Regions from separate parts of the Homo sapiens genome. Here region 1 is linked to region 2. Evidence: fine-mapped expression QTL. Tissue or cell type: thyroid. Region 2 holds a variant in brackets; the other region holds the start of a gene. All regions are shown on one strand. Distances are from middle to middle.

The links. PIP is the estimated chance that this variant, and not a neighbour inherited with it, causes the effect.
Region 1: it holds the start of WNT4, and the variant in region 2 is fine-mapped to the expression of WNT4 in thyroid (GTEx, PIP above 0.99).

The regions. Positions count from the first base shown.
Region 1 is chr1:22,141,986-22,144,485 of GRCh38, forward strand. It overlaps WNT4 (Wnt family member 4), which reads right to left and starts at 1,112. Exons shown (of 5, transcript NM_030761.5): 1 at 861-1,112. The coding sequence starts at 937. The region is part of intron 1 of LOC105376845 (a long non-coding RNA gene); the gene reads left to right. RefSeq lists silencers at 580-639, 1,202-1,531.
Region 2 is chr1:22,363,489-22,365,988 of GRCh38, forward strand. No RefSeq gene overlaps it. Among named protein-coding and RNA genes, the nearest start is that of ZBTB40, 87 kb to the right of the region's middle. The variant A/C (reference allele first, on the strand shown) is at 1,077.

The DNA of each region.
Region 1 (2,500 bases), 220 kb before region 2:
GAACTGTCCCTGAGCGGGGATGAAAGGAGCGCGGGTCCGCTTGCTCCCTGTCCACCCACTCACTGGAGCTCATCCCTTTAGTCTCCCTCCCTGCAGCAAACCTTCCGCCCCTACCCAGGGAGCGCCCTGAGCGCAGATCCAGTCAAGGAGAAACAGACAGGTCACCAGCGGTTACCACCCCTTCCTCCTTAGGCTAGACACGGGGAGCTGGGGGGCCGTTGTCTTCTTTAAGGTCTGGACGGAGTTTCTTCCTGCCCCGGGGAAAAACCAAGGCCCGGCCAGCGCCAGCGCCAGCCCCGGGCCCTGGGAGACCAGGCGTCCTGGTCCCTTCCTTCTGTCTCCGGCTCCCGCCCCCCAAGCAGAAACAGGTCCCTGCACGCCTCCAGCCCAGCCCGCAGCGCGGCGCAGCTCGGCGCAGCTCGGCGCTGGGAGCTCGCTCCGGACTTCTCGGGATTAACCTGCTATTATGTCCCGGAGCCCTTCCCTGCAATGGGCTTCCTCAGCGACCTGTCAGCCCGGCTGGACTGCAACCCGCGTCCGGCGCCCCTCCCGGGCCACCGCCCCGCGCTCGCACCCCTGGCGCCCTCGAGAGCCCCGAGCCGCCTACCGGTGCGGACGCCGCCACAGCCACCCCTGACGCCTCTGGGCAGGGAGCCGGACCCGGGCAGGAGGGGACCCCGGGTGTGCAGAGGGACGTTCGGGCCGTGGCGGCGGCAGCGGAGCGAGCGAGCCTCCGGTCCCGCGGCCGAGACACCTGCCGGGCTGCCCCGCGCCCGCTGCCCCGCGCCGCCTGGCACCGGCCGCTGCCCCCGGGGCCTGCCCCGCCCCGCCCCGCCCCGCTCGGCCCCGGCCAGACTTACAGCCAGTTGCTCGCGGCGGCTGAGAAGACGGCGAAGACGAGGAGGCGCAGCGAACGCAGGCACGAGCGGGGACTCATGGTGCCGCCGCGGGCGCCCGGCCCGGGGCAGCGGCTGCGGCCGCGGGGGGCCTCCCGTCGGGGCTGCAGGTGGGCGCCCGCGGGCGGGCCGGGGCGCGCGCGGCGGGGCTCTGCCTCCGTGTGCCTGCCGGCAGCCTGCCCGCTGCTGCGCCCGCTGCCCGGCGCGGACCAGACTGTCAGCGCCGCCCCAGAGCCGGGATGCGGCGGCGGCGGCGGCGGCGGCGGCGGCGGAGGCGGGCGGGCGGGCGGGCGGCCGGGGGGGCGGGCCGGGGGCGGGCCGAGGATGGGGTTACCTGGGCGGGCCCAGCGGCCCGGGACACCCCCCCGGGGGCGGGCCGGAGCGGCGGCGGCTGCCGCCTTAGCCCGCGGGACTGGGCTGCTCCCGGGGCCTCCCCGGCTGGGCGCTCCGGAGGACTTGGGGCCCGAGCCCGCTCCAGGCACGCCTGGCTGCGCGCCGCCGAGCCCGGCCCGGCTAGAGGCGCGGCGACCCAGCTGCCCGGCCGCCGCCCGGGCCTAGGGGACAGGCGGGCACAGCTCCCCCAACCCGCCGCTGCGGGCACTGCAGCGCGGCCCTCGCTGTCCCCCTACCCCCCCCACCGCCCCCCGCCGGCGCCTGGAGCCCAGACCCCGGTCCGACCGCGGCGGACCCACCGGAGCGCGGCTACCACTCGCGCGCACCCAGGCGCTGGCGCTCCGGGTGCCTGGGGCTGCACATCGGGGCGCTGGATGTCTCCCGACCGCCCCCCGCCCGGCCCCTCCCTGCCTCCTGGCCCCCGCGTCCTGCGGCCCAGCCCCTCCCTGGCGCTCACCTCCCTACAGCCTTCCGGGAGCTGGACGGGGCCTCCCCAGCTTTGGGCAGCTTGGGACAGTGGCCCGAGACTGTGGGAATCCGAAACCTCGCTTCTGGCTAGCCACAAGGTCTGGGCGCGCCCCAGGCAGCAGGGTCTTGACTCTGAGCCTCCGTTTTCTCATCCGGGAAGTGGGCTTAAGACGCTGTGATTGGGAGGACAGGAGGAGTTTAGGGAAGCTCTCTTGGCTCACTCACCAAGTCTTACTTTGCATTTGGTTTTCTATGTGCTTGTTCGATTTATCCTCCCATACTAGGCAGATTCAGCCTCTTGTTTGTTTTGGGCACAGGGCGGTGCCTGCCATGTTTGTGGAAGGAATAAATGAATGGAATGGAATGGGCTGCAACAGCCTGTGCTTGGCTAGTCCAGAGAGCTCAATTCCACATCACTGTAACCCCTAAGAATTGTCTGCCCAAGTCCACGCCACACCCTCTCAGGTCACTGATCTGATTCTGTGTGCTACTCATCCTCCAGGCTGCATCCCCCAGCTGCTCACAGGTAGAGGGACCTCTTATCTAAACAGTAAAACTAAGGCCCGGAAAGGGAGGCACCTGTCCCACCTCCCTAGGGGTTGGGAACAGAGGCAAGGACCAGGTCTATGCCCTCACCCCCTGATCTTAGTTCTTCACTGATTTTGGAGTATGAAGTTTGCTCCCACAGAGGCCATCATGTTTGGGTGCTGGGATGGTGCCCTGGGGTCCCCTGGGCTCAGAAC
Region 2 (2,500 bases):
TCTCCTGAGGCTAAGGCAACAGAAAGGGCCTTTTCAACATCATTTGAAGTGAGGAAGAACAGACACTCTTTCAGCATGGTACAGTAGAAGAGGCTACTTCTCCCAGGGCAAAAGATGCTATCTGCACCTGGCTGGCTGCTGTGAATACTCCAGCCAAATCCCAGACCACCATGAAGGCCTCCCCAGCCACACTCCAGGCCCCATCGTCTGAGGATCAGAATCCACAGGAAAGAGCGGACAGGGTAGATAAAGAAGAGCTGAAAGGGCAGGGCTGGGGGAGATGTCAGGAAGCGAAGGAGTTCAGACAACCAAGAGGAGAAGTCAGGAGGCAGAGAGCCCAGCCGGGCTGTCCTCCAGGACCTGGAGCTGCTGCTGTGCCATCGCTGTGGACCTGTGGACAAGGAGCCAACTGGGGAAGCAGCACTGAAACTACCACACCTGGGCGACTTGGGCCACCTGCTCCTATGTGTGCTCAACCTGGTGACTGCAAGGCCGTTGCGAAGCAGCCCCTCTCCCCCTGTCTTCTACAATAATGGAATCATCATAATAATTGCTAACACACAGGGCACTTGCTGTTTGTCGGGCATGGTCCAGGGATCATCCACATTAACTCATTTACCCCTCACCACAATCCCAAGAGGTAGAGGTAGTTCATGTCTAGATGAGGAAACTAAGGCACAGAGAGGTTAAGTAGCTTGCCCACAGTCACACAGCTACTAAGTAGCAGAACTGAGATAGTCTCAGAGCAGTGCCAGGCTCGCATCCTCTCCCTGCCTCCACCTCTCTTCTCTTTATCACCCCAATGTTTCCACATGTCCCTCCCCATTTCTTCATTCCTTGGCCTGCCCTCTGGCCTGCAAAGAGCGGCAATTTCACTCTACTTAATCCCCGGCCAGGCTTGTCACCCAGAGGCCAGTGTTTAAGCTCTGACGCAGCCCACATCCTCACTGCCAGACCTGACTCCTGTCTGTCTCTCCAGCTCAGCCTTGCCTCACCCCCTACCCTGAGCGCCTGGCTGCTTCTTGCTGCCCCCTTAGCCTGGAATGTCCCTGCCGCACCTACTTGGAGGGCACTTG[A/C]TCTTCTTTCAATGATTGAAGCAAGCAGTTGTGTTTTCAGAGAAGCAAAAAGCTGGGAACTTCTTAAATGTCCAGCAATAGAGATTTATTGAGCAAATGAGGGAAATTCATCATACATTGGAATAGGGAAATTCATCATACATTCAGCAGCCATCAACAAAGATACTGTAGAAAAGTAAGCTCCTGAGATGTGCCGGTCATTGCGCTAGGTACCCTGTCTATATACATCACCTTGCTTCATTTAATCCTCAAGGTTGCTCTGATTATTCAAAGAAGAGTAAGTGTCGTCCAAGCAAGTGGGGCAGGGGCATTCCAGGCTAAGGGAGAAGCTGCCAGGTACTTAGGAAAATGGCCGCTGGTTGGAGTGGGGTGAGGCAAGGCTGAGCTGGAGAGCTGGTCCTGCAGGGGGCTCTGGCCTGCCCTTTGATAGAGGCCTCACTTTTCTCTCCTCATACAGATACAGGAAGTGAGGCTCAGAGAAGATGGTAACTACCTGATCCAAGTGGTTGGACCGATTTTGACCCAGGACTTCACTGTTCATGCTTGGAGCCGCCAAGCTATGCTTACAACATGGAAAAATGTTCATGGCACATTGTATTGCATGAACATCAAAGCAAGTTGCCAAATAATATAGCTGCGTGATCCCAATTTGATTCGCAAAAATGCACGCCCCCCCACACACAGAAAAAAATATCACCATCTCAACTCTATTTCTGAATGGTGGTGGGATTGGAGTTCAGTTTTACTCTACTCCTTCTGTTCATCTGCTTTTCTTCATTTTGCACAGTGAGTAGGCATCACTAATAGGAGACAGTCCTTACCACCCACCACTACCTGCTCTAAACAGACTCCAGGCCCAAGTTCATGCAACTTTTCCGCCCTCAGGAACTTTTCTGCCTGCCCAGGTAGCCCTGTCCCATGTGCCCCACCCACCTGTGCCTCCGCAGACCTGGGTTCTCCCGTCCATCAGAGCCCTGTGATGTTTCAGGACACTCACTGCTGGTGGCCTCTTTCCGTGGCATTGGACTATGGCTTCTCCCAAAGACGCCCCTTCCCCCATGCCTGCCTTTCCTGTCTGACATGGTTTGGCTGTGTTCCCAACCAAATCTCATCTTGAACTGTAGTTTGCATCATCCCCACATGTCATGGGAGGGACCCCCTGGGAGGTAATTGAATCATGGGGGCGGTTACCTCCATGCTGTTCTCGTGGTAGTGAGCGAGTTCTCACGAGATTTGATGGCTTTATAAGGGGCTTTCGCCGGCTTCGCTCTGCACATCTCCTTGCTGCCACCAAGTGAAGGAAGTGTTTGCTTCCCTTTCCGCCATGATTGTAAGTTTCCTGAGGCCTCCCCAGCCCTGCGGAACTGTGATTCAATTAAACCTCTTTCCTTTATAAATTACCCAGTCTCAGATATATCCTTATA